Homo sapiens: one gene and its partners. The protein of the gene in region 3 interacts with the protein of the main gene of each other region in a pairwise test. Each region holds a gene or a part of one and is shown on either strand. Other genes may lie near its edges.

The links.
Region 1: the proteins of QRICH1 (region 3) and NFYA interact in binary tests that used the Homo sapiens proteins (3 or more experiments, as listed by UniProt).
Region 2: the proteins of QRICH1 (region 3) and RBM17 interact in binary tests that used the Homo sapiens proteins (3 or more experiments, as listed by UniProt).
Region 4: the proteins of QRICH1 (region 3) and PIERCE2 interact in binary tests that used the Homo sapiens proteins (3 or more experiments, as listed by UniProt).

The regions. Positions count from the first base shown.
Region 1 is NC_000006.12:41,075,578-41,083,010, forward strand, and holds part of NFYA (nuclear transcription factor Y subunit alpha), read left to right. Parts: exon of another isoform or gene 1-121; intron 122-3,451; 5' UTR 3,452-3,512; coding exon 3,513-3,587; intron 3,588-5,233; coding exon 5,234-5,320; intron 5,321-7,433. UniProt on the Homo sapiens protein: Component of the sequence-specific heterotrimeric transcription factor (NF-Y) which specifically recognizes a 5'-CCAAT-3' box motif found in the promoters of its target genes.
Region 2 is NC_000010.11:6,098,967-6,106,399, forward strand, and holds part of RBM17 (splicing factor 45), read left to right. Parts: intron 1-2,304; coding exon 2,305-2,421; intron 2,422-5,964; coding exon 5,965-6,131; intron 6,132-7,174; coding exon 7,175-7,272; intron 7,273-7,433. UniProt on the Homo sapiens protein: Splice factor that binds to the single-stranded 3'AG at the exon/intron border and promotes its utilization in the second catalytic step. Involved in the regulation of alternative splicing and the utilization of cryptic splice sites.
Region 3 is NC_000003.12:49,041,948-49,049,380, reverse strand, and holds part of QRICH1 (transcriptional regulator QRICH1), read left to right. Parts: intron 1-2,134; coding exon 2,135-2,312; intron 2,313-2,801; coding exon 2,802-2,956; intron 2,957-4,876; coding exon 4,877-4,991; intron 4,992-7,433. UniProt on the Homo sapiens protein: Transcriptional regulator that acts as a mediator of the integrated stress response (ISR) through transcriptional control of protein homeostasis under conditions of ER stress.
Region 4 is NC_000015.10:55,411,169-55,418,601, forward strand, and holds part of PIERCE2 (piercer of microtubule wall 2 protein), read left to right. Parts: intron 1-6,586; exon of another isoform or gene 6,587-6,866; coding exon of another isoform or gene 6,867-6,965; intron 6,966-7,054; coding exon 7,055-7,402; 3' UTR 7,403-7,433. UniProt on the Homo sapiens protein: Microtubule inner protein involved in the attachment of outer dynein arms (ODAs) to dynein-decorated doublet microtubules (DMTs) in cilia axoneme, which is required for motile cilia beating.

The DNA of each region.
Region 1 (7,433 bases), on a different chromosome or scaffold from region 3:
CATGCTGAAATATTTCTGTTCTTGTTTTTATGCTCTCTTGATTTGTAGTACTTCACCTTCCTCCACATCATCACATAGCTAAATCTTTCTCACACTTAAGACCAGTTCATCCTGCAGGCCTCTGATAGCAAAGAAAAAAAAAGTTCAAGTAGTACCTTTTTTTTTTTAAGCCTTGTTGATTTATCCCCAGCTGGAACAAATCTCTGTCCTCCAAATTCCCATATCACTTTATCTCTTAGGATTCCAGTATAGGTTTTTAGTCCATTACTAAACTTAAAGACTCTTTGAAGTTTGAATCTTCGTCAGAGATTTCTTTTTATTTTTAAAACCTTCAGAACAGTGTCTGGCACATGGTACATAATTAGTGGAGAGAAGTGCATTAGAAAGCTCCAATCCAGAAATCTGTAGGATGATGGGGAAGCTGGACAGCCCTTTGTTGTAGTCTAGTCTTTCATCAAGCGTCTATCAGGACCCACTTGTTGAGTTGTGAAAGAAATTGAGTGAGCCAATGCTGGGAATTTTTAAATAATAGAATAGAAAATATCTGCCAGGCATGATGATGGCTCACGACTGTAATCCCAGCACTTTGGGAAGCCGAAGTGGGAGAATCCTTTGAGCTCAGGAGTTTGAGACCAGCCTGGGTAGCATAGGGAGACCCCCTCTCTTAAAAGAAAAAAAAGAATAGAAAATACCAAAGTGCATCTTGTGTTGTATAAAGGTAAATGCTGTTTCATGAAACTTTCATTTCAGTTACATGCTTTATACATGTGTGCACTGAGTTGTGATAATGAAATGTGTTTCTTACTAAGGGTTGTGGTCAAAAAAGTTAAAAAGCTACTGTTCTAGGCTTTGCCTGGTAGTGATTATCAACTGTGATAATCCTATGGCTTTTCATATGCTTACACTAGTTGAGTTTCTGAAGAGGTTTTAGCTTTGGAGTTTGTGTAGGTCCACATAGAATGGGTTCCTAGTAAGTGGTTGGCTAAGTCTCAGCTTTTGCACCTTGGAATAGTGGGGCAAAGAGAATTGCACTGAGAAGAGAATGCACTAGGAAGAGAATTTTCATGCTAGCCAGAATAAACACTTATTATTTGTTTCTCTCTCTTTGAGGAAAAACCATTCAAAACTTTGTGTTAAGAGCAAGAGCTAGACAGACTAAATCTGGCTTAGTTTGTCATAATCTTGGGCAAAGAGGCACTTTGGGAAAGACTATCGAATTGTATTGCAGTCTTGCTAACTGAAGCTCACAGTAGTAGGAACATATGACTTTACTGAAGCCAGTTGCTTATAGCATTAACCATTAACAGTATCAATATCATGATACAGGCTAAATCACTCTGTCATTAATGTGAGAGAGAATTGCTGCTAGATTTGAAGCTGCTCTTCAAATCTTGATACTCTTCAAAGTATAAATTTAAATATTGCTAAATTGGTTCATTTGTATTACCAGAATAAACTAGTTAAGAAGAAAATCTGTACGTTACATATATTAGTCATTATGTGCTTCAAGTTATATTTAGTCTTGTAAAGATGTAAACTTCTGGATATTAGTCAAGGAAAAAATCTCATATAAGAAGGAAATTTGGAGTTGGGGAGGCGTTGAAACCTAAAAGACATTCCTTTCATGATCCTTATTTTTTAAAATCAATTTATTGAGAGATACTTTAGAAACAAAGTATAATAATTTTAAATGTGTATTTTGATGAGTTTTGACAAATTTGTACACCTGTGCAACTGCTACCACAATGAAGATATAAAACATTTTCATCACCCTACAATGTTCCTAAGGCTCCATGCCAGTCAACCTCCCTCTTTCCTGTCTCCCTGTATTCTCCACTCCCAAGGAACCACTGATCCATTTTCTGTCTCTAGATTACTGATGTCTTTTGGAGATTTTATATAAATGGAATCATATATATTCGTTTACATCATAACCTTAATTTTATTAGTTTATAGCCATAAATGTATTGTGTATTAGAGACAAGATAGAATTTAGGGAAGCCTGTTAGTGCCCCTAACAGACTCACAGTCTGGCTGAAAACCTGATTTTCTATTCTATACCCAGAATCTCTGAGGAGCAGACTTAGTCAACCAATTCCAAAGAGACTGGTGTAAAAATCAGAAAACCGGTTTGTCATGTTGCTGATTATATTTGCTCCCTGTTGGCCAATCTATATGTAAATCCAAATTATAGCTAGAAATTTACCTAGCGAGCATTCCATTAGATCAAGGGCAGTGCTTTGGAGAACCATATGGCCACAAGTCCTCTTGCTGTGATGACATAGCCTGTTATTTATGGCTCATAGATTCTTATGTTGTATCCATTTTGGTTATGAGTAATGGGGTTGATTAATTTTTATTTTGATTAAATTTTGTTATATTTTTCCTAACATTCCAACATTCATTTGGGAAATAAGAATTTCTCAAAATTCTTATTCTAGAAATAAGAATTTTCAAGTGTGCAGTGAAATCAAAGGAATTTGAAAATAAACACCTGTATACCTGCCAGTTAGGGTCTATTAACATCTTACTATAATTGCCTTACCAGATATTTCTCCACCCATTCATCCATTTTTTGATGCATTTCAAAGTAAATTTTAGATATCAATACACTTCTTTCTAAGTACTTGGACATATAGTTGCACATATTTTGGTTTCTTCTTTCACACTGTATTGAGACACCTTGCAAATGATTAATTCCACCAGCATGTGTGGATTTATGGAGAGTGGTACTGTACTTTGCCACGATAATGAGCAGCTCAGTTAGGTCACGTCATTTTATTATTCAGATGTTGGAATTTATGAGGGCCTAGTGAAAAATCAGAGAGAAAGACCTATCTACATTTTTGTTTATATATCTGTCCTCCCTCCCATATTTCCAAGATGAATTGCCGATTGCTAACTTATATCATTTTAATTTTTTAATGAAGTCTTTATTAAAGGTTCTCAGATATCATTCAGTTTATCTAATTGTATCCTTATTTTTAAAAGTGGATCTTCAACTCTTAAAGTCTATGAGAAGGGTAAATTTTGCCTACCATATGTAGTGGACCTGAGTAACATGTTTGGTGGGAAGCAATTACGTGTTACAACTTAAAGAAGCTTTATTCTCTAAAGTATATGTGCAAACCTGAAAATCAGTGTTAGGTATGCCTTGTATCAAAGTGATGTAGCTTAACGAGTATCTCTTAGGTGCAAGTATTGCTCTGACAGTATTGAAAGGTAAGGTTGCCAGTATACTGAAAGCATTTTAGAAACGTGAAAATAGCATTATGTTGTTATGATTGTGCCATGTAATCCCAGTTAAAAATGATACTGAATATAAGCATTTCCTATTCTCCTATCCTGTTTTCTTGCAAATAAAGTACAGTGATAAATTATCCAGGTTAATTGTCTGGTAAGGCCTTTATTGACAATCTCACTTTAGTTTCTTTCCCCACCTTTCTAACAGGAGTGTACCTCACAGCCTTCTAGGATCTCCAGAGTGGACAGGAATCTCACTTGGAGGGACCATGGAGCAGTATACAGCAAACAGCAATAGTTCGACAGAGCAGATTGTTGTCCAGGCAGGACAGATTCAGCAGCAGGTATGGAAGCAAAACTGCTTTAAACATTACAGCAATGAAACTGATAACAGCACCACTCAATTGGTTGGTCTATTGCCCTGGGGAATTATTTGAAAGATACCAGATCTTGTGAGATATTGGGTCTGATGGCTTGTGCTGAAATGCCATGTCTAGCCCATGACCACTTAGAATCTACTCTTCATGGGTGCCTGGTTATAGTAAATTGCCTCTTTTATCTCATTTTAAGTAAAAACATCTAGTCTGGTTTTCAGATGGAAATTTGGACTTTAAAATTTTTCTGGATTCTATTTGGTCTTTTTCTCTTCTTGTTTGAGCTAACTTGTGATTTAGTAAGTCTTTGGCCACAACAGACAAACCAACATAGCTTCCAATAAATCTTCTGTTTTTTGATTTGGTCTGCCACATTTTTTATTCAGAAAAGCTCTGGTTTAACATTAGGATAATATTTAGACAGCCATTCTTATGGATAAGACATACTAGAAAGGAATTCCCTGCTGCTGGTTTATTCCTAATTAATAGATTGCTTTCTTGAATTTATACACAGGTTACATTTTCTGATGCTTTATGCTTGGGTTTATTATAGTAAAATTTCACTTTTTTCCCCACCCCAGAAGAAAAAAATGTATTATGTTTCTATTTGACCTTAGGCCAAGATTGATATTTTGGAAATACTTTGTTTTCAAAATGGAATTTAGCTAATATAGAAAAGTAGTAGGGAAGGGAAAGGTAGTATTGATGATGAGTTTTTCCCGTCTAATGATCAAAGACGAACTCCCCTGATAGCTTTCCCTTCCATACAGCTGCTGTGGCTCTGGCAGTTTCCTTCAACTGCCTTTTTAGAGGAAGGGATTCCACAAAGGGCCCTCCATTCACACCAGTGCCCTGGAGGGTGGGTTTTTATTCTTTCAGAATTTGCCATTAGTGGATGTAAAAATAAGGTTGAATCATTGAAAACATGGCTCTTAAAGCAGTCCAGTTGGGTAGAAATAATCTTAGTTTTGAAGCTGGGCATGGTGCTGCATGCCTGTAATCCCAGCTACTCTGGAGGCTGAGACAGGAAGGTTGGCTTAAGCCCAGGAATTCAAGACCAGCCTGGGCAAAACAGCAAGACCCCATCTCAAAATAAGTACATAAATAAAGTTTAAAAAAAAAAGAATCTTAGTTTTGGGACATGAGAGCATTGACGTCATGAAGATGATTTCGGTTCATAGTGATTAATTACTCCTCCTTTCTTGGTGATTGCATTTAAGCCCAGAATTTTTTATGGTAGTTTCAGGGCTATTAAAACCTAATCATTTTTTTCTTGTGAACTCATCTGAGGAGATAAAAAGGGCATTAAACAATTGTGTAAGTAGAAGTGTCAGATTCCTGTTTCTGGAGGGAAAGATTGCATTACAAATCTTTGTGTTAATGATGACAACTGTTTTGAGTTTTTGAGTCAAATTTTTGAGGTCCACTCTGGAGACAAAGGGCTAATATCTTTAATCCTACTACCTTCAACAAAACAGCTTCAATATAGGGAGTCTGTACATTTTGAAAGTCCTTCAGGCTTCCGTCTCTCTCCTCCAAGAGGTAAGGTGATCTGTGTCTTGAACTACACATTTCCTTCCTGACATATTTCAAGCTCTTCCTGTTCCTGTTCTCAGCAGCAGGGTGGTGTCACTGCTGTGCAGTTGCAGACTGAGGCCCAGGTGGCATCCGCCTCAGGCCAGCAAGTCCAGACCCTCCAGGTAGTGGTACCCTCTCTGATTCTCTGTGAGCACTGCATGAACTTCTCCTCTCCTCATGTCTGGTGCTGTTTGTGTTAGGATCTCCAGTAGGAATGGCAAAGTCAGTTGCATGTCTTTGATGCTGCTAACTTGTCTTTGAGGCTTATAAGATGCCAGTTTCCTAATATTTCATGCCAAGTCATATAGAGACCCCGTATCAACTTTCTGAGAATTGGATTTGACTAGCATGTTTCTTTGAGAATGCCTGGAAAAGAAATGGTATAAGTGACAGGAAGAAATTCTTATAAGTGACATTAGAATTTATTCAGGGCTCGGCCGGGCGCGGTGGCTCACGCCTGTAATCCCAGCACTTTGGGAGGCCGAGGCAGGCGGATCACGAGGTCAGGAGATCGAGACCATCCTGGCAAACATGGTGAAACCCTGTCTCTACTAAAAATACAAAAAAATTAGCCGGGCATGGTGGCGGGCACCTGTAGTCCCAGCTACTTGGGAGGCTGGAGCAGGAGAATGGCGTGAACCCAGGAGGCAGAGCTTGCAGTGAGCAGAGATTGCGCCACTGCACTCCAGCCTGGGTGACAGAGCGAGACTCCGTCTCAAAAAAAAAAAAAAGAATTTATTCAGGGCTCACACTCTGATCCAATTAATTGCATGGTAAAAATTTTGTGTATTTGTGTTACAATGGAGAAGGAAATATATACATATACAGACACACATAAACTAGGCTAGGCTGTGCTTTATTTTTATTCAAGGGGCAACTCAACTGAAAAATAATCATTGCACTTGGCAAGGTTTATCTAAGCACTGAATCTTGTTAATCTCTTGTTAACTGCTATTGTTTCCACTACCTTTCCTGGGGGAATAGTGACCTGTCTTATTACTAGATCTGCAAAGATTACCCCAGATACCTCTTGGTTAGGCAGAAGCAGGATGTGCTTTCTGTAAGTCTTAGGTGTTAAAGCCACTGTGATAATTCTTGGTTAATCAATACAGTTCTTTAGCATCGTGTATGGCTAAGTATCCTAAATTGGGTTCTAATTTGGCCAGTTCCTATAAAACACAGGAGTAGCAGCACTAGTCTACTCTGTGTATGTAGGTTACTTTTATTAAAATAACTCTATTTTTGAGAAATTGGCAAGATTTGGGTACCCTACTTTTTCCCTCCATTGAATTAGAAATGATTCAAAGTAGAATCTAGAATGTAGAACTGGCATCTCACTTTATTGCTAGTGCTGCTAAGCATCCAGCAGATAACTACCTCTTATTGTCATCACTTTATCCTTTCAATCCCACCCCTACCCCTGCCACCAATAGTGTTTGGTAATGATGTACAGCCAACTTTGAACATAAATTAAGCCGAAAGAAACTGAGCTTGTAGGCATTCCAAAATTGTGTTCAAATCTCACAGTCCAACAGCTTGTTAATGTTTTTCATGCTTGCTTCATCTTACTCATATATAAAACAGTATTTTGGATTGTCATTAACCCCTTGTGGAATAGGAATGTAACATGCTCTTAACTGTATGGCTTCTTGTTTGATGCATGTGTCTTTGTAACATTTTTCTGTTGTAAATACAGTGAGCTCTTTGGAGTCTCAAATCATTTATCATGTGCACGAATAGCACATCAATTGGGGAGGAAATTAAGATGATGAATAGATAGAAAATTATTAATAGCTGTATCTTAAAACTTGTGTTTCCTACTTACATAGATTTTATTTAAAAGAAGTGGAAACACTTTATGGAAATAATAGAAACCTTTCCTCTAGGGATCTGATTATTTTGGGAGAATTTTAAATAGTTATTTTGGTTATTCTTGCTATATGTATTCTGAGAAATCTTTCTTGATACAGAATATGCAAGCATTTGGTGTAGCAAAGGGGATTTGATTTGGAATGGGGAAATAAGGGAAAGAGATAGCATGAGAGAGTCAGGCTGTAAAGTCCTTAAAAAAGTAAAGTAAAGGTTCTCAATGGACAGTTTAACAAAACTTAGGATTTCAATGTTCCTGGTGATTCTAATACATTAGTGGTGGTGGCAGTGGCGGCGGTGGTGGTGGTGATTGTAGGAGGACCTTACTATCTAACCTACTCATCTAGGACAGAATGATCTGTTAACTAA
Region 2 (7,433 bases), on a different chromosome or scaffold from region 3:
TGTGTTTTTAAAATTCATCATTACCAAATTTAGATTTTTTGGATGCCAGTATTTTGTGTTTTTTTTAAAACAAGGTTTCATTCCAAATGTAAGGAGGGTTAGCAAAACCTCGTTTTTCTCTTTAATTTTTTTTAAAAGTACATTTATAAAATCTTTGTAGATTTCATGTAACTTTTGCTTTGCAGGGAAGATGCAGGTGTGAGCCACCGTGCCCGGCCTCATATAGATTTTTAAAACTTGAGGTAGCTTGTGAAGTTATTTCTACTAACTTTATAAAACTTTTGAGATTGCTATGTACAGTTAGTTTTGTGGGTTTTTTTTTTTAAGGGAAGTGAAGATTGCATTCTCTTAGGCTGTTTAGTTACTCAGAATACTAGATTGGCCTAGCCAAACCTGTAAAGGTATTTATTTGGTAGAGAAAATTTGAAGCTGTGGTTTCATTTGTATCTCCATTTGAAAAAATACAGTTGTTTCTTGGTGTCCACAGGGGATTGGTTCCAGGACCCCCCTGCCCATACCAAAATCCAAGCGTGCCCAAGTCCCTTATATAAAATGGTGTGGTATTTGCACGTAACTAACACACATCCTCCCATATTTTAAATCATCTGTGGATTGCTTGCAATACCTAACACAATGTAAATGCTGTGTAAAAAGTTGTTATACCGTATTGGTTTTTTTATTTGTATTTTTTGTTGTATTGTTTTATTTTCTTAATATTTTCAGCCTGGGGTTAGATGTGGAACCTGTAGATACAGAGGGCCAACTCTATATTGAATAGAAAATAATAATAATAGAAAATATGTGATTCTGGCTGGGCGTGGTGGCTCACACCTGTAATCCCAGCACTTTGGGAGGCCAAGGCGGGTGGATCACCTGAGGTCAGGAGTTTGAGACCAGCCTGACCAACATGGTGAAACCTTATCTCTAATAAAAATACAAATATTAGCCCGGTGTGGTGGCGTGCATCTGTAATCCCAGCTACTCTGGAGGCTGAGACAGGAGAGTTGCTTCAACCTGGGAGGCGGAGGTTGCAGTGAGCCGAGATCGAACTCCAGCCTGGTGACAGAGCAAGACTCCATCTCAAAAAAAAAGAAAGAAAGAAAATATGTGATTCTAATAAATCCCCCTTCCGTTCTGTAAACTTTCGTATTTACTTTGTGAGTTGTTAATTGGATTAAATTTTGTTTGCTTAAATTTATAAGTATTGTTATATTCAAGAGAGATGAAGGCTTATTTTGTGCCTTTTATAGTGGTAATGAAAATTTGTAACACTTTAAATTGCAAAAGAGAAAAATTAAACCTTTCTAATCAAAAGATCTAATGGTTACCACCATACCCATATGATCAACCTTAGCATTGCTGTTAGACGGCCTGACGCAGTGTGCCTGCTGTGTGTTGCAGGAAGGGGCACACTGCCTCACCTGGGAAGTGTTCCTGCCTAAAAGCTTTACCCTGAATTCGATCAGGCCTTTAACCTCCAGGTTTCAGGAATTACAAGGCATAGAGGAACAAGCTCAACTAAATAACCAGGTAGTTATTAGACAGATCTAGAACAAACAGCATTTTACAAGATAGTGTCAGAGGAAAAAAAGGAAGAGGAGATGAAGATGATGGTGATGATGATGATGGGGAAGAGGGACTGTTCTTAATCAAGACACTTAAAAACCAAAAGCATTTCAGGAACTTTGGTAGGATCCTGGTTCAAAAAAAAAATCAGCTGTTTAAAGGACATTTTTGGGATATCTTGGAGAATCTGAATGTGAACTGGATGGGAAATGACATGGGAATTAGTGATTTTATTAGGGGTAGTAATCTGACAGGAGAATGTCCACGGTTTCAGGAGATTGGGGTGAAGTGTCATGATGTCTCCAACTTTCTTTCAAATGGTCTAGCAAAAAATACAGGTGTAAGGGCAAGAAGTATGGTAGAACATTAACAATAATTGAATGTATAGAAATGATTTTCTTTTAAAAACTTTTTTTTGTAGATTCATAATAAAGGAGATAGGAAGGATTCTATATCCTAGTAGGAGGGAACAAAACTCTTATCCCCAAGTATCTTTTGAAAGTGACTAAGTTTACTGTAAACCTTTCACAGAAATGGAGAAAATCTCATGTTTTTGAAAAAGCTGAAAGAAAATAATATATGATTATAGTAATAAATTAAAAGGCTGTTGTTTTGAGATTATGGTTTTCTCATATCTCAAAGGTTTGTTGCAGGGACCAGAAAGAAAATCTTTGTTGCAAACAGTGTGAATTTTAATTTGAAACTTCAGTATGTTTTCCTTGTTTTTGATGATTTTAGAGCCAAAGGACGAAACAAAGTACAGTCCTCGCCCCAGTCATTGACCTGAAGCGAGGTGGCTCCTCAGATGACCGGCAAATTGTGGACACTCCACCGCATGTAGCAGCTGGGCTGAAGGTAAGCCCGCGCCTGCCTGTGAGCTTGATACGTGTCTCTGTTCCCATGTGGCTTATTTTGCATATGAGTTACTCTTAACAGATGGCCTCCTTGGTGGGCCTTTGAAACCAAGTTAGTATCATTTTCCACCTAATTTTTACTTCTGTTTTGCCAATTTTAAAATGTATCTATTTGAAATTAAATAGTTTGTTGTAGAAAAATCAGAAACTAGAGATACGCAGAAAGAAAAACAAATTACCTTCAGTCATACAATCCGGAAGTGAAAAACGTAATATTTTTCCATCCTGTGCCTACTCCACCTTCTGCTAACTTGCTTTTCTTACTTAATACGTTGTGACTCTGTCAAAAAATACAGGACTGTATGATCACGTTTATGGCTTCACTATATTCCCTTGTATATAGATGGACTATAATTTAATTCCTTTAATGCTGGATATATGGGTTGTTTCTATTTTTTGCTATCATAAACAGTGTTAGTACTTACTGATTTATTGTGGATTAAAACAGAGAAAGGGGTTTTAAAACCCACTTCTACCACCCTAACCTGTATGATTCCAGTGATTTTACATATGCTTAAAAACAAACATGTGGTCAACTCTATAAATTGGGTTATTGAGGATGAAGAAGATCTGGAAAAGGATAACTCAAAATCATAGTTAAAACTAGACAAAATGAGGTAAAATGAGTGAATAAACTAGTTAAAATTATACCCACAATTTAAGTATACATTTATCTTTCCACAGATGGCGTTCAAATAATGACTGTGGTCATTTAAACAGCATCATGAATTGCACAAAACCGCTTGATGAAAAATGACCAAAAGATTAATAATAGTGCTATCGAGACAGTTTCTTAGCAAGGCGCGCCTGTCCTCCCCACCACCTGTGGGAAGGGCTGCATCAGGCTGGGGCAAAGGGCACACTCCTGCCCATCTGTTTCACGTCACTGTTCTGGGTTGGGCTCCGTCTCCTGCCTGTCCTGCTTATGTTCTGGGCCAGTCTGTGGCTGCAGCTTACCCTTGAGTTGTCCTTTTCTGAGGGGAGCGGGTGCTGTTCCTGAGGGCTGGTAGTTCTTCTGGAGGGGAAGCACCACATGGTGGAGGTGTTTTTTTGCTGATTCCTAGTCATTGAGCATTTTCCCCCATAAATTTGATACCTAGTTTATTCCTGCTACATCTAATTTAAAAACTGGTTCATAGTTTCTTCTGTAATCGTGTATTGGTTCTAGTACCTATAATATTAGTCTCCTATTTAATGAGTAAGCCTTTTTCCTCCTTGTTACATAGTTTTCACGATCAGTTTTTAATTCTCATTAAGCGAATGCATCATAATTTACACAAGTATTCCCTAACTGTAAAACCACCTAGATTTGCTTTTACATTGCCTTTATAAATACCACTCTAATGAACATCTTTTTGTGGTTTTTATTTTTGAGACAGGGTCTTGCTCTGTCACCACGCTGGAGAGCAGTGGTGCAATCTTGGCTCACTGCAGCCTCCTCCTCCTGGGCTCAAGCGATCCTTCCACCTCAGTCTACTGAGTAGTTAGGACCACAGGCATATGCCACCACATTTGACTAATTTTTTGTAGAGATGAGGTTTCACCATGTTGCCCAGGCTAGTTTTGAACTCCTGAGCTCAAACGATCCACATGCCTTGGCCTCCGAAATTGCTGAGATTACAGGCATGAGCCACTGCACCCGGCCCTCTAATGAACATCTTTACAGAGATGTTTCTATGTAATTAGGGTTATTTTCTTAGATTTTCTGAGGTGGCATTAAGATATCAGCCATTTTTATGGCCAATCTGTTCTGGCACCAGTTTACTCCCAGCAGTGCACAGTATCACCTCAGGCATATGAGGGTGAATTTTACCCCATCCTCCCCCCTCAGCATTGAGGGTATTAACATTTTAATTTTTTTAAATTGAACAAATCACTTTATTCATTGCAGCATTTAGAAAAGGATGATTGATTTCATTGTTAAGCATAGCAGGGTTTATATGTAAAAGTTTTTTTCTTTGAAATTTTGAAGTGTCAGAGAATGAACCTTCATATTGACAGTTTGTTCTCTTAGACACGTTGTGATAATTGTGTTAGATAAATTGAGTGGCTGGTTGTCATTTTCTCTCTAAATAATAACTGAAAAGAAATCTTCATGTGCTTTTGTATTTTTTAAATGTCTTTTATAAAATGAATACAAATGTATAACTAACCTTTAGGAGCCCTACATTAAATACATTTTCCAGTGGGTAGGGCCTGGGAGGTGATTATAGTTATTTTCCTAATTGCTCTTATTCATTGGATCATAGCATTTCCTGATATTTCGTCGTAAGGAAATGGTGAAGTGTTTGTTTTATAGTGCAAAATGTCACACCGAACCATGAAACACAGGAACTGTTCGATTTAGGTCTGTTAATATGGCGTGTAAGCTGTCTTGATTTTGTCAGTTCTGTGTTCAAGCAGGAAACACGTTTACAAACGACCTTCTTGCCTTTGATACAGTTGGACATTGTACCTCCTGTAAGAGGTACAGACTGGGCGCTCAAGGACATGAATCCTTGTTGTTTTGCATGTGTGTTTTAAAAAAAATGGGGACACTAATCCTAACCTGTGCTTGTTTGAGGTGTCTTTCAAAACCAGAGAAGGCATCTTATTGTTACAGATAATAACGAAGAATTATGCTAAGAACACTAACAGGAGAAAGTGTGGGAAGGTTTAGGAAAGTGGGGTCAGGGCTTCCAGCACCACGTGTAGACCGAGGCTGCCAGCCTAGGGTAAAGTTCTGTGTCTGCTCATGTATTTCCTAGTATACTGGCTGTGCTCTGCCTCTCGTTTTGCTAATTTCTTTGTCATGGCTACCTCTTTTCTTTCAAAGAGTAGACCAAGTTTCTGAATGTATAGACGAGAAAACACGAAGTGTTATCTAAACCTGATTTTAGTGAACCTTAAAAAAAATTATGATGCTGGAAGGGACATTACATCCCCTTGTGTCAAACTCAGTGCCTGAAATGCAGCCTACCTGGGAAGGGACATGTGTTCAGAGGATTAGAAAGACCAAGAAGATGCTTTCTAAGATCTCCATATATTCTTATCTCCATGTAATCAGAATCTGAAGTTATTCTGTTAAAATGATGACTGCAAGAATGATTGTGGTGTTCATGGTTGTTTTATTTTTTAAGTTGTCATAGAGATCTATAAAAACAAGTATTCAGTGCTTTACTATAAGTATTCTAATTTTTTGACTCAAAGTACTAGTAACTTATATTTTAGCTGGTGGTGGCTTATTTAGGAATTCCAGGAAAAATGCCATAGAGTATTATAGAAATAGTACTAATCTAAGAGGTGAAATTTTGTGTCCTGTTTCTGCTACCACCTGACTAGGCACGTGGCCTTGTCTGGTATTTGTTTTCTTTGTCTTTAAAACAGAGGAAGGGGCTAGATGATGTTCAGAGTCCTTTTATCTCCCATACGCTTTGACCTGAATCCTGTGAGTAAACTGGTAAGATATAAAGAGGATTCTTACTGCTGTTTTTACCTTCCTCAGGATCCTGTTCCCAGTGGGTTTTCTGCAGGGGAAGTTCTGATTCCCTTAGCTGACGAATATGACCCTATGTTTCCTAATGATTATGAGAAAGTAGTGAAGCGCCAAAGAGAGGAACGACAGAGACAGCGGGAGCTGGAAAGACAAAAGGAAATAGAAGAAAGGGAAAAGTAAGGCTTCCTTTGGATTTGGGGATATTTTACAGTTGAAATGTTCATTAAAATGTTAACGAATGAGCGTCGCTGCTGTCTGTAAGGCTGAAGTTAATTGTCATGGGTGATCTGAGCAGTCACTACAAGGAATCAAACTGTTTTACGATTTGTACCTGTTACATCTCAGAATCACAGCAAACTTCACCTGTAGACTGAAGACCTAAAGTGTATATTTTGAGTGAGTTGTTAGAAAAATAACTTATAAACCTGATGTTGAAAATTTTTTTCTATGCTGATACTCTGCTATAGGTTGACTATCCCTTATTCAAAAATCCGAAATCTGAAATGCTCCAAAATCTTTTGAATGCCAACATGCCGCTCAAAGGAAATGTGCATTGGGGGATTTTGGCTTAGGGATGCTGAACTGGTAATTGTAATGCAAATATTCCAAAATTTGAAACACTTCTGGTCCCAGGCATTTGGAATAAGGGATTCTCAACTTGTAAAATCACAGCTATTTAAAGTACTTGAAATATTCTTCTTAACTTTACTATTTTTGAGCCAGGTGGAATTTTTAAAAATTCATATGCAGCTTTTATTTATGTTTTTGCAAAGTACGAGTAGTAGGATGTATTTGTAGTTCTTTTTAAAAATATTTAGTATTATCAAATAGTTAACATGTATTAAATATTAATATACTGTTTCCCATTTATTGAATCATTTCATGAGTGAAAGTGTTATAGACTATTGAAATGATTGAACTATTACTATGTTGATAGGCTTTAACATTGGAAGAGGTCAATGTCAAGGAACCTTTTTTTTCATGCTGGTTGCTCTCGTATACTTATTGGTTCAATTTATCTCTTGAATTTTTCTCACTTTTCATACTTTTATCTACTTTAGTCTTTTACCAGTTATGCTTCCTACCCCCTCTACCCCTGCAACTTCATAGTTGATTGTGACAGGATTTGGATATCTTCTGGTCAAGAGGAAGTCATCCCAGGTTCAGGTCTCTAAATTGGTTCATCTGTGATGAACATTTATTTCCTTTGTTATCACAGAAGGCGTAAAGACAGACATGAAGCAAGTGGGTTTGCAAGGAGACCAGATCCAGATTCTGATGAAGATGAAGATTATGAGCGAGAGAGGAGGAAAAGAAGTAAGGCATGAACAAATATGTCTTAAACATATATAAATACTGGAAGTGCAATTCCACTATGTGCTTTTTCTTTTCAGTTTGATAAATAGTTCATTTGACATTGATTTGGGTAATTTTCTTTCTGGAATCCCAGCAATACACATTTGCGTCACAGTTTTAAT
Region 3 (7,433 bases):
CTCCGTCTCCTGGGTTCAAGTGATTCTTATGCTGCAGCCTCCCAAGTAGCTGAGATTACAGGCATGAGCCACTATGCCTGGCTAATTTTTCTATTTTTAGTAGAGATGGGGTTTCACCACTTTTTTTTTCTTTAAATGATGGCTCAACTGTGGCTGGACATTAAAATCACCTGGGAAGGCCAGGCACAGTGGCTCATGCCTGTAATCCCAGCACTTTGGGAGGCCAAGGCGGGCAGATCAGTCGAGGTCAGGAGTTCGATACCAGCCAGCAAGATGGTTCAATAACAGCCGTCTCTACGAAAACTACAAAAATTAGTTGGGCATGGTGGTGCATATCTGTAATCCTAGCTACTCGGGAGGCTGAGAAAGGAGAATCGTTTGAACCTGGGAGGTGAAGGTTGCAGTGAGCCGAGATCGTGCCACTGCACTCCAGCCTAGGCGAAAGAGCAAGACTCCATCTCAGAGGGAAAAAAAAAAAATCACATGGGAAGCTTTTAAAAATACTGACAATGTGCCTCTACCTTACAATGGCTGGAGATAAGGCCCAAGTGTGAGGTTTCTTTCTTTTTTTTTTTTTTTGGTTTTTTTTTTTGTGAACAGAGTCTCACTCTGTTACCCAGGCTGGAGTACAGTGGTGCGATCTCGGCTCACTGCAAGCTCCGCCTCCTGGATTCATGCCATTCTCCTGCCTCAGCCTCCTGAGTAGCTGGGACTACAGGCGCCCGCCACCACACCCGGCTGATTTTTTTGTATTTTAGTAGAGATGGGGTTTCACCGTGTTAGCCAGGATGGTCTCAGTCTCTTGACCTCGTGATCCACCCACCTCGGCCTCCCAAAGTGCTGGGACTACAGGTGTGAGCCACTGCACCCGGCCAGGGTGGGTTTTTTTTTTTTTTTTTTTTTAAAGCAATCCAGATGATTTCAAGGTGAGACCCAGTTTAAGAATCAGTGCTCTCGGCCGATGGCCCAAGCCTGTAGTCCCAGCACTTTGGGAGGCTGAGGAGGGCGGATCACCTGAAGATGGGAGTCAAGACCAGCCTGACCAACATGGAGAAACCCCATCTCTACTAAAAATACAAAATTAGCCGGGCGTGGTGGCACATGCCTGTAATCCTAGCTACTTGGGAGGCTGAGGCAGGAGAATAGCTTGAACCCGGGAGACAGAGGTTGAGGTGAGCCGAGATCCTGCCATTGCACTCCAGCATCCAAGAACAAGAGCGAAACTCTTTCCCCGCCAAAAAAAAAAAAAAGAAAGAAAGAAATGTTGTCTCAGTTCCTACCCTTTTCAATCAGAATATGCATTTTGATAAAATCCCCAAGTGATTTGTTTGCACATTAAAGACTGTGGGAGCAGTGCTTTGAGCCAGTAGTTCTCAGTGGTGACCAAACATTAGAATTACTTTTTTACTTGAGGAGTTTTTTTGTTTTGTTTTGTTTTTTCTTTTTTCTTTTTTCGAGACAGAGTCTCGCTCTATCACCAGGCTGGAGTGCAGTGGTGCAATCTTACTCAAGGAGTTTTTAAACAATTGATACCTTGGCTCCCCCTCAGAGAGATTCTGGGGTAAGTCTGGCTATTAGTGTTTTTAAATAAAAGATTTGACCGGGCACAGTGGTTCACGCCTGTAATCCCAGCACTTTGGGAGACTGAGGCGGGCAGATTACCTGAGGTTGGGAGTTCAAGACCAGCCTGACCAACATGGCGAAACTCCGTCTCGACTAAAATTATAAAATTAGCTGGCCGTGTTGGTGCATGCCTGTAAACCCAGGTACTCGGGAGGCTGAGACAGGAGACTCACTTGAACCCGGGAGGCGGAGGGTGCAGTGAGCTGAGATTGCGCCATTGCACTCCAGCCTGAGCAACAAGAGGAAAACTCCGTCTCAAAAAAAAAAAAAAAAAAAAACATTTAAAAGTGCAGCCAAGGCTGAGAAGCACTGCACTAGCCCAGTTGCAGTGCTGCTTTTGCTGTCCCTGGGGCAAGAGGTAGAACTCCAAAGCTTCTTAAAAGTAGGACAGCAATGAGTAGAGAAATATTTTCTTAAATAAATGAACTATACATAACATTTTTCTGGCAATTTTGCAGAAGGATCTAATATAAAACAATATTGACACATTTTCATGGTTTCTCTCCTATAGGCTCAAACTGTCCAGGTTGCTGAAGTTGAACCACAGTCACAGCCACAGCCTTCCCCAGAACTTCTGCTTCCAAATTCTTTGAAGCCAGAAGAAGGGCTTGAAGTATGGAAAAACTGGGCCCAGACCAAGAATGCTGAACTAGAGAAGGATGCTCAGAACAGATTGGCACCCATTGGGAGTGAGTGTCTTGGAAGAAGAGTGGGCTGTGTCTAAAATGCAATGGTACTAAAGTAACAGGAGGACAAAATGCCAGAAAAGTGGTGTCTCCTGTCTTGGGGACAAGAGAGCAACATCTGTAATAGTATGTTGAATTCAAGCCTAGTAACAAGCAGTACTGACCTTGTGTACATAATAAGCAGGATATGTGGGGTTTGCCCAAAACCAGGCATTTTTAGACATACGGGTTTCAGGAGTTGACCCTACCAGACCTAAGCAGAGTGGCTTCTGGGAGGAAATGGGAACCAGGGATAGGCACTCAAGCCCTTCTTTCTTGGCATTAGGCTCATATACTCATGTTATAGGCCAGTTCTGACATTACAGGCATGAAACATTCTAGTAGATACAAGTGAGCATTTCTATCCCAGCACCCTGATGGGCAGTATCTGTTCTGAGCCTTCCAGATATGGACCCCCAGGACCTTCATTCATTTTTGAGGCTTCCGTTGCAGGGCGCCAACTGCTGCGATTCCAGGAAGATCTCATCTCCTCTGCTGTGGCAGAGTTGAATTATGGGCTCTGTCTAATGACACGGGAAGCTCGAAATGGAGAAGGTGAACCCTATGACCCAGATGTGCTCTACTATATTTTCCTGTGTATTCAAAAGGTAGGAAACAGATCTTCACAAGAACATGTTTGAGCTGTGTTCCTATTGGATGTTTGCTAGTTTAGTTAATAAATTGATAAGCAAGAAGTTAAAATAAGGAAGTTCTCTTTCAGGTATACAGTGAGTTTTAAAATACACATTTGTTGTTTTTTTTTTTTTTTTAAGTTTTAAAAACCTACACGTTCACTTTAGAAAATAACAGCCGGGGCCGGGCGCTGGTGGCTCACGCCTGTAATCCCAGCGCTTTGGGAGGCCGAGGCAGGTGGATCACTTGAGGTCAGGAGTTGAAGACGACCAGCCCAGCCAACATGGTGAAACCCCATCCACTAAAAATAGAAAAATTTGCCAGGTGTGGTGGTGCACTGCCTATAATCCCTGCTATTTGGGAGGCTGAGGCATGAGAATCGCTTGAACCCGGGAGGTAGAGGTTGCAATGAGCTGAGATCACAGCATTTTACTCCAGTCTGGGTGACAGAGCGAGACTCTGTCTCAAAAATTAAAAAAAAAAGAAAAGAAAAGAAAAAAAATAAGAGCCAGGCAAGATGTCTCACACCTGTAATCCCAGCACTTTGGGAGGCTCAAGGCAGGAGGATCGCTTGAGCCCCAGGAGTTTGAGACCAGCCTAGGCAACATAGTGAAACCCCATCTCTACAAAAAATTAGCTGGGTATGGTAATGCATGCCTGTAGTCCCAGCTACTTGGGAGGCTGAGGTGGGAGGATTGCTTGAGCCCCAGAGGTTGGGGCTGTAGTGAGTCATGATTATGTCACTACACTCCAGCCTGGGTGACAGAGTGAGACCCTGTCTGAAAAACGAAAAGAAAAAAAATTAGCTGGGTGTGGTGGCACACACCTGTAGTCCCAGCTATTTGGGAGGCTGAGGCAGGAGGATCCCTTGAGCTCAGGAGTGCGAGGCTGCATTCAGCTATGATTGTGCCATCACACTTCAATCTGGTCTACAAAGCAAGACCTTGCCTCTTAAAAAATAAATACATAAAATAAATAATAAAATAGGAAAACAAACATTATTCATCCTACTACCTAAACTTCTATTACATTATTGGTAATTACCTTGACTTTTTTTTTTTTTTTTTTTTTTTGTAATTCACAAAGCATTTATGTAACACTTTTCTTTTTGTTAAACCTGATTTTCATGAAGGTAATTTATTCAAAACAGAGTCTTGTGCCAGCATAGAGGTTTTCTTCTCATTGTTCCCTGCACTAACTACTTATTTGAAGGAGTCTAGCTAGAATAATATACCAATGTAGTTAGGTTTTCAGGACATCTGTGGTGAAGCATAACAGAAATTTGCAGACTGGCAGTTCAAGGGAGCAGAGGTGGATTTCTTAGTGTTTGAAGGCTCTTGAGGAGAAACCCACAGTATAATAGAATAGGGCTTACTGGTTGGGACTTATTCTGTTGCCTAGTCTTGAGAAATGTCTGCCTCCTAGTTTTTTCCTCTCTTGGTGGTCCTAACCTAAGTACTATGTGAATTGCTTTACATGCTTTCATTCTTTGCTCTCCCAGTCCTGGAAGGCAGATACCATCATCTCCATTTACAGGCAAGGAAACTGAGTCTCAGAAATTAAAAGACTTGCACATGTTGTTTAACTTATACAATATCTAATGGAAGGCTGACCCCAGAGCCTATTCATGATTTTTGCTAACACAAAATAATGCCTTTCTTGGGTGAAATAGCATTCACAACATCTGCCTTATTTACCCAACTCTCAAGAATGTCATGAGAATCAGTCACATGAGCTTAGGCATACTATGGAAGTGTCACATGCTGGTGCCTTGGTTTGTTGAGGTGTGAATGGGTAGGGAAGGATAGTAGTACTGGTAGAAAAATATATTTATTTCCCCTGAAATCCTTGTTCAGGAGACTACCAATAACTTCTATTAATTGTTTTTCTTTTAGTATCTTTTTGAAAATGGAAGGGTAGATGACATTTTCTCCGATCTTTATTATGTTCGGTTCACGGAGTGGCTACATGAAGTTCTGAAGGATGTTCAGCCCCGGGTCACTCCACTTGGTAAGAGTCTCCCTTGTCCTTGGATATCTTTCCTACCTGGATTTAAGAAAGATCAATAGCTTCTGTGGTTGGCTATGAAAAGCATGTGAGTGAGGGGGGATATAAATCCCAGACTGCAGCAGCATTGGCCACTGTGCTACTTGCCCTGATAGGGAAGAGGCACTGCTCACCAGAGAAGCCTGCTGGTTCCAGTGTGGGAAGGACACAGGAACAAGCAGAACTAGTGGGGTAGTTACTATCTTTTTTTTCCTATTAAAATGTATTGATTAAAATTAGAATCATAACAATTAAGGATTATGGACAGTTTTATCTGTAGAGCATAATTTTTGCTTTACTCACAGGCAGCCTTCTGGACAGCATGTTCTATTGGAACAAAAGCATAGGTTATTCAGTGTTTTTCTTTGTTTGTTCTTAAAAAAACATGGTCTTGGTATGTTGCTGAGATGGGCCTCAAACTCCTGAACTCAAGCGATCCTCCTACCTCAGCCTCCTGAGTAGCTGGAGCTATAGGCATGCGCTACTGTGCTCAGCTATTTTTGTTTTGTTTTGTTTTGTTTGAAACGGAGTCTCACTCTATAGCCCAGGGTGGAGTGCAGTGGCACGATCTTGGCTCACTGCAGCCTCCGCCTCCCAGGTCCCAATTCAGGCAATTCTCCTACCTCAGCCTCCTGAGCAGCTGGGATTACAGGCATGTGCCATCATGCCCTGCTAATTTTTGTATTTTTAGTAGAGACAGGCTTTTGCCACATTGGCCAGGCTGGTCTCAAACTCCTGACTTTGTGATCTGCCCACCTCGGCCTCCCAAAGTGCTGGGATTACAGGCGTGAGCCACCACCGTGCCTGGCCTATTTTTGTTTTTAATAGACTTTTTTTTTTTTTTTTTTTTTTTTTTTGAGACAGAGTTTTGCTCTTGTTGCCCAGGCTGGAGTGCAATGGTGTGATCTTGGCTCACTGCAGCATCCACCTCCCAGATTCAAGTGATTCTCCTATCCCAGCCTCCCAAGTAGCTGGGATTACAGGAGCATGCCACCACGCCTGGCTAATTTTTGTATTTTTACTAGAGACAGGGTTTCATCATATTGGTCATGGTGGTCTCGAACTCCTGACCTCAGGTGATCCGCCCACCTCGGCCTCCCAAATGCTGGGATTACAGGCATGAGCCACCACGGCCAGCCAATAGACTTTATGTTTTAGAGTACTTTTAGGTTTCCAGAAAAATTTAGCAGTAAGTACAGAGAATTTCCATATAACTCCTTAAGTATATACCCTCACACACAGTTTCTCCTATCAATAACATGTTGCGTTAGTATGGTACATTTGTTATAATTGATAAACCAATATTGATACATTATTGTTAACTATAGTTCATAGTGCTATGAACTATATTATTGTGTTGTACGTTCTGGTTTACATTCTGTATCTGTTGTACATTCTGAGTTTTGATGAATGTATGATGACATGTGTCACCATCATGGTGTCATATAGAATGTTTACTGCCCTAAAAAATACCTCTTCTGGGCCAGGCATGGTGGCTCACACCTGTAATCCCAGCACTTTGGGAGGCAGAGATGGGCTGATCACTGAATATTGGGAGTTCAAGACCAGCCTGGCTAACATGGTGAAACCCCATCTCTACTAAAAATACAAAAATTAGCCAGGTGTGTTGGCAGGTACCTGTAATCCCAGCTACACGGGAGGCTGAGGTAGGAGAATCGCTTGAACCAGGGAGTCGGAGGTTGTGGTGAGCCAAGATTGCGCCACTGCATTCCAGCCTGGTGACAGAGCGCGACTCCGTCTCAAAAAAAAAAACAAACCTTTTCACCTGTTTATCCCTCCCTCCCCCAGATACCCTGAAAACCACTGATGTTTTTACTATCTTCACAGTTTTGCCTTTTCCAGAATGTCATATAGTTGGAATAATTCGGCATGTGGCCTTTTCAGATTTGTTCCTTTCATTTAGCAATATGCCTTTAAGATTCCTGTGTGTCTTTGGCTGGGTGCAGTGGTTCATGCCTATAATTCCAGCACTTTGGGAGGCCGAGGCATGTGGATCACAAGGTCGGGAGATCGAGACCATCCTGGCTAACACGGTGAAACCCCGTCTCTACTAAAAAATACAAAAAAATTAGCCGGTTGTGGTGGTGGGTGCCTGCAGTCCCAGCTACTCGGGAGGCTGAGGCAGGAGAATGGCATGAACCTGGGAGGCAGAGCTTGCAGTGAGCTGAGATCGTGCCACTGCACTCCAGCCTGGGCGACAAGAGCAAGAGTCTGCCCCGTGCCACCCCCGCCCCCCCGCCCAAAAAAAAAAAAAAACACAGTCTGGGCGCGGTGGCTCACGCCTGTAATCCCAGCACTTTGGGAGACCAAGGCAGGTGGATCACTTGAGACCAGGAGTCCGACACCAGCCTGGCCAACACATAAAACGTTGTCTCTACTAAAAAT
Region 4 (7,433 bases), on a different chromosome or scaffold from region 3:
AATAATAAAATTTGGTGAGGCATGGTGGCTCACGACTGTAGTCCCAGCACTTTGGAAAGCTGAGGTAGGCGGATCATCAGAGGTCAGGAGTTTGGGAACAGCCTGGCCAACATGGTGAAACCCCATTTCTACTAAAAACACAAAAATTAGCCAGGTGTGTTGGCAGGCACCTGTAGTCCCAGCTACTCTGGAAGCTGAGGCAGGGGAATCACTTGAACCTGGGACGCAGAGGTTACAATGAGCTGCGACTGCGCCACTGCACTCCAGCTTAGGTGACAGAGCAAAACTCCATCTCAAAAAATAAAATAAAATAGTGATAAAAATTGATTCCATTTGGCCAGGCGCAGTGGCTCACACCTGTAATCCCAACACTTTGGGAAGCCGAGGCAGGTGGATCACTTGAGGTCAGGAGTCCAAAACCAGCCTGGCCATCATGGTGAAACCCCATCTCTACTAAAAATACAAAAATTAGGCTAGGCACGGTGGCTCACGCTTGTAATTCCAGCACTTTGGGAGGCCGAGGCGGGCGGATCACCTGAGGTTGGGAGTTCGAGACCAACCTGACTAACATGGAGAAACCCCATCTCTACTAAAAATACACAATTAGCCAGGCATGGTGGTGCATGCCTGTAATCACAGCTACTCGGGAGTCTGAGGCAGGAGAATGGCTTGAACCCAGAAGGCGGAGGTTGCGGTGAGCTGAGATTGCACCATTGCCCTCCAGCCTGGGCAACAAGAGCAAAACTCCTTCTCACAAAAAAAAATAAATAAATTTAGCTGAGCGTGGTGGCGCACGCCTTTAAGCCCAGCGATTTGGGAGGCTAAGGCAGGAGAATTGCTTGAACCCAGGAGGCAGAGGTTGCAGTGAGCCAAGATCACACCATTGCACTCCAGACTGGGCAACAGAGTGAGACTTTGTCTCCACAAAAAAAAAAAAAAAAAAAAAAAAATTGATCCCATTCATATAGTGATTCACCATTTACATCAAATTTTCTTTCATTTAATCTCCACAACCATAGGAACTATGGCAGATTTTTATTTACCAGTTTTACAGATAATATACAAATAAAGGTGAAATGATAAAGTATGAGAACCTAGGTCATAGTTGCTGCCTTGTGCTACTCTTCCAATATATCACATCCAGCCCTCTTTCGCTTATGATTCTCATTAAAATAAAGCAAAACATGAAAACATAGTATACTACACTGTGATTCTGCCTCAAGTTTATAAGGTTAATAAATTCTGTGGAGTTGGTAGAAGAGATCTGAGAGGTCAAATAATCCAGGCTCCACTGTTTTACAAACAAATTTTAGGCACAGAGAATCTAAGTGACTTGTCCAAGTTTAAATTGCTTTATATTTGATTCATATTTTCAGTCCCCTTATTCATGGAAAAATACTTTCAAAAACTTTAGTAGGGACACTATTCAGGTAGAACATTAATAATTGACTGAAAGCTGGACACTGTGGCATGTACCTGAAGTCCCACCTTGAGAAGCCAAGGCCTGAGGATCACTTCAGCCCAGGAGTTCCAGGTTGCAGTGCACTATTATCCCATTTGTGAACAGCCAGTGCACTCCAGCCTGGGCAACAAAGTGAGATCTCTGTCTCAAAAAAAAGAAAAAGTTGATGAAGAGTAGATTGAATATGGTTTTATAGTACTTTTAAGTTAAAAGCTGGGGATTGATATGGTAGCTTATGCCTGTAATCCCAGTGCTGTGGGAAGCCAAGGCAGGAGGATTGCTTGAGACCAGGAGTTCAAGACCAGCCTGGGCAACATAGCAAGACCTCATCCCTACAAAAAAATTATAAAAATTAAGGCTGGGCGCGGTGGTGCGCACCTATAATCCCAGCACTTTGGGAGGCCAAGGCGGGCGGATCACGAGGTCAGGAGATCGAGACCATCCTGGCTAACACGGTGAAACCCCATCTCTACTAAAAATACAAAAAATTAGCCGGGCACGGTGGCTGGCGCCTGTAGTTCCAGCTACTCGGGAGGCTGAGGCAGGAGAATGGCGTAAACCCAGGAGGTGGAGCTTGCAGTGAGCCAAGATCGCGCCACTGCACTCCGGCCTGGGCAAAAGAGTGAGACTCCGTCTCAAAAAAAAAAAAAAATTATAAAAATTAGCTGGGTATGGTGGTGTGCATGTAGTCCTAGCTACTTGGGAGGGTCACTGGAATCCAGGAGTTTGAGGCTGCAGTGAACTACGATCACTACTGCACTCTAGCCTGAGTGACAGAGAAAAACTTTCTCCCTTCTCCACACCAAAACAGTTAATTAAAAGCTGCCCTTTAAGAATGTTTTTAAGGGCCGGCCGTGGTGTCTCACGCCTGTAATCCCAGCACTTTGGGAGGCCAAGGCAGGCAGATCACTTGAGGTCGGGAGTTTGAGACCAGCCTGACCAACATGGAGAAACCCTGTCTCTACTAAAAATACAAAATTAGCTGGGCCTGGTGTGGCACATGCCTGTAATCCCAGCTACTCGGGAGGCTGAGGCAGGAGAATCGCTTGAACCTGGGAGGCAGAGGTTGCAGTGAGCCAAGATCGCGCCATTGCACTCCAGCCTGGGCAACAAGAGCAAAACTCCGTTTCAAAAAAAAAAAAAAAAAAAGACTGTTTTTATGGGGAAAGCATTTTAAATCAGCTTCATTTCAACTCATTAGGACTTTTTTTATTTTTCAGCTCTAAGTACATTTAAAATATGAGTAGATATAAGATATTACATAGAGAAATGCTTTTTTTTTTTTGAGACGGAGTCTCGCTCTGTCGCCCAGGCTGGAGTGCAGTGGCAGGATCTCGGCTCAAGGCAAGCTCCATCTCCCAGGTTCACGCCATTCTCCTGCCTCAGCCTCCCGAGTAGCTGGGACTACAGGCGCCCGCCACCACGCCCGGCTAATTCTTTGTATTTTTAGTAGAGACAGGGTTTCACCGCGTTAGCCAGGATGGTCTGGATCTCCTGACCCTGTGATCTGCCCGCCTCAGCTTCCCAAAGTGCTGGGATTACAAGCGTGAGCCACCGCGCCAGGCCTGGTTTTTTTTTGTTTTTTTTTTTTTTGAGACAGAGTTTCACTCTTGTTGCCCCGGCTGGAGTCAGTGAGTGGCATAATCTCGGATCACTGCAACCTTGGCCTCCCGGGTTGAAGCAATTCCCCTGCCTCAGCCTCCCGAGTAGCTGGGATTACAGGTGTGTGCCACCACGCTTGGCTAATTTTTTGTATTTTTAGTAGAGGCAGGGTTTCACCATGTTGGCCAGGCTGATCTCAGACTCCTGACCTCAGGTGATCCACCGCACTCGGCCTAGAAATGTTCTTATATTTGTAATTTTCCCAACTAGAAATGCAAATGAAATTAAATTTATAAAGGATTAGTCATTGTAAGTCTTCCAAAAAAGTTAGTAAGTGAAGTCATTAACTTTTAATAGATTTTCCAGCTGGGCATGGTGGCTCACGCCTGTAATCCCATCATTTTTGGAGGTTGAGGCGGGTGGATCACCTCAGGTCAGAAGTCCGAGGCCAGCCTGGCCAACATGGTGAAACCCCATCTCTACTAAAATACAAAAATTAGCTGGGCATGGTGGCGCACGCCTGTAATCCCAGCTGCTTGGGAGGCTGAGGCATGAGAATTGCTTGAACCCAAGATGGGGAGGTTGCAGTGAGCCGAGATGGCGCCACTACACTCCAGCCTGGGCAACAGAGTGAGACTCCATCTCAAAAAAAAGAAAAACAAAACATTGATTGTTCATCTATTAACTTTTAATAGGTGAACCATCTCAAAGTGAAATTTATTAAACAAAAAGTCTATTTATACTAACAGCACTTTAGAGAATACCCAGTTTGTAATTATTCTGACATAATTATACCAGGGCTGGGTGAACGTTTATCTTACATCAATGTAAGGTTGCAGAAGAAACTTAACTATTTAAGAAAATAAGCTATTTTCAAGTACTTCTATTAGTATTGTAGCAGGACAAGCCGCAGACAAAACCCCTCAGACACCGAGTTAAAGAAGGAAGGGCTTGGCCGGGCGTGGTGGCTCACGCCTGTAATCCCGGCACTTTGGGAGGCCGAGGCAGGTGGATCACCTAAGGTCAGGAGTTGGAGACCAGCCTGGCCAACATGGTGAAACCCTGTCTCCACTAAAAATACAAAAATTAGCCAGGTGCCTGTAATCCCATCTACTCGGGAGGCTGAGGCAGGACAATCGCTTGAACCTGGAAGGCGGAGGTTGCAGTGAGCTGAGATCCTGCCATTGCACTCCAGCCTGGGGGACGAGAGTGAAACTTCGTCTCAAAAAAAAAAAAAAAAAAGAGGGAAGGGAAGGAAGGGCTTTATTCGGCCATTCGGCAAGAATCCCGTCTCCAACAACCTAGCTCCCTGAGTGAGCAATTCCCGTCCCTCTTAAGGGCTTACAACTCTAAGGGGGTCCGCGTGAGAGAGTCCTGATCGATTGAGCAAGCAGCGGGTACGTGACTGGGGGCTGCATGCACCAGTAATTAGAATGGAACCGAACAGGACAGGGATTTTCACAATGCTTTTCCATAAAATGTCTGTATTCTACAGATAACATAACCGATTAGGTCAGGGGTCGATCTTTAACTACCAGGCCCAGGGTGTAGTGCCGGGCTGTCTGCCTGTGGATTTCATTTCTGCCTTTTAGTTTTTACCTCTTCTTTCTTTGGAGGCAGAAATTGGGCATAAGACAATATGAGGGGTGGTCTTCTCCCTTAGTATTTTTGGCATTAGCATTAGAATTAAAATTAACTTCCATCTAAATCAGTACACATTTCAGTTCTTTTGTAAGTAATGCTGTGAATTAAATTTTTCTACAATAAAGTTTCTTAGGATAGAATTCACAATCAGAATTTCAGGATTCAGTCATGACATTTTTTAGAGTTTTTCATGCAGTTTGTTGGTTTTTTTAAACATTGTTATATATATAGAGAGAGAGAGAGATAGAGTCTTTTGCTCTGTCACCAGGCTGGAGTGCAGTGGCGTGATCTTGGCTCACTGCAACCTCTGCCTCATGGGTCCAAGGGATCCTCTCCTGCCTCAGCCTCCCGAGTAGCTGGGACTACAGGCACATCCCACCACAACCAGCTAATTTTTGTATTTTTAGTAGAGACGGGGTTTCACCATGTTGTCCAGGATGGTCTCAATCTCTTGACCTCGTGATCCGCCCACCTTGGCCTCCCAAAGTGCTGGGATTTACAGGTGTGAGCCATTGCGCCTGGACGAAACTTGTTATATTAATTTATCAAGCCATCATCAATGCAAAGTGCTTTTCAGTGCCAAAATTATGTATCATCTATATATAAAACTACATATATATATTTAATTTACATATTACATTGTAGTACATTGTAGTAAATGGCACCACCATCCGCCCAAGTGTTTGTCCAGAAACCTGGAAGTTATCCTAGATCTGTCCTTTTCCCTCACCACCCACCTCCAATCAATCATGAGATCCTGTGAATTCTACTTCCAAAATATATTTCAAATTTGCTCCATAGGCTGGGCGCGGTGGCTCACACCTGTAATCCCAACACTTTGTGAGGCCAAGGTAGGTGGATCACCTGAGGTCAGGAGTTCGAGACCAGTCTGGCCAACATGGTGAAACCCTGTCTCTACTAAAAATAAAAAAAAATTAGCTGGTTGTCGTGGTGAGCTCCCATAATCCCAGCTAGTTGGGAGGCTGAGGCAGGAGAATTGCTTGAACCCGGGAGGCGGAGGTTGCAGTAAGCCGAGACTGCACCATTGCAGTCCAGCCTGGATGACAGAGCGAGACTCTGTCTCAAAAAACAAACACACAAAACAAAACAAAACAAACAAATTTGCTCCATCTCCATGCTACCACCTACTATATATTGTCATCATTACTCACATGGACTACTGCAGCTCCTCACCACATTCACACAGGCCCTAACAACAGCCAAAGTAATTTTACTAGAATTATATTACCTCATGTCACTCCTCTCCTTAAAACCCTTCAATAGTTTTTCATTGCTTTTACAATAAAGATTCAGATTTTAAACACAGTCAACAAAACCCTAAGAGATCTAACCCCTGGCTCTCTATTCTGATCTCATGATATTTTCACCCTAATTTACTTGACTTTTGCCATACTTTGTCCCCACTTCTATCTTTTACTTCCTTGCCTTATAGTCAATCTTAGATTGAATGGTACTTCAGTGGAATGGCTTTCCCTAACCCCCAACACTAGATAAGAACCCCCATTCTGTCTTCATTAATATCTTGTATTTTTTTTTCTTCATAGCAGTTATCACAATTGTAATTATTCAGTTAGCTATGTAATTAGTTATTTAATGGCTGCCCACATACCCAGGCTAACCCTGGATGTTTATCTTGTTCCTTTCTCACTCTAAAATCAAGCTGTACTTCCTCTTCTAACTATGACTTTTACAGATTTTTCCCTATGATTTACAGATTTTTAAATAAATTCTCATAGTTCTAGTACAGAATGTTTAAAAAGGTAACTTAGCATATTTTTGACAACTTTGCTCTGTGTACAGGTGTATGTGATTTTAAGGGTAGTCTTCAACGTCAAGAGAAGAGACCACCAAACAGGCTTTGTGTGAGCAATAAAGCTTTTTAATCACCTGGGTGGAGGCGGGCTGAGTCCGAAAAGACAGTCAGCGAAGGGAGATAGGGGTGGGGCCGTTTTATAGGATTTGGGTAGGTAATGGAAAATTACAGTCAAAGGGGGTTATTCTGTGGCGGGCAGGGGCAGGGGTCACAAGGTGCTCAGTGGGGGAGGTTCTGAGCCAGGAGAAGGAATTTCACAAGGTAATGTCATCAGTTAAGGCAGGAACCGGCCATTTTCACTTCTTTTGTGATTCTTCACTTGCTTCAGGCCATCTGGATGTATACGTGCAGGTCACTAGGGATATGATGGCTTAGCTTGGGCTCAGAGGCCTGACATTCAATGCCCTCAAGAGAACAGAATTCCTGAAAAAGGGAAGTGGGTGGGACTGAATTAAATTTTTTTTTTTTCAGAACTTTATAATGGAGAATGATTTTATGTGTTTATCTTTTAGGATAAGAAAAGTACTTCACCTTCAAATTCAGACACAGAAATGAAATCTGAACAACTGCCTCCTTGTGTGAACCCTGGCAATCCTGTGTTTTCATGTATGTTGGATCCAAAGACACTCCAGACAGCCACCTCACTATCAAAACCTCAAATGATTATGTATAAAACCAATTCAAGTCATTATGGTGAATTTCTACCTATTCCACAGTTTTTCCCCTGCAATTATACTCCAAAGGAGCAAGTATTTTCAAGCCATATCAGAGCAACTGGATTTTATCAAAATAACACTCTAAATACTGCACCTGACAGAACCAGAACTCTTGATTTTCCTAATATTCAACACACTCTATGAAAATATATTCCTTTGTATATTGAAGAGAAAA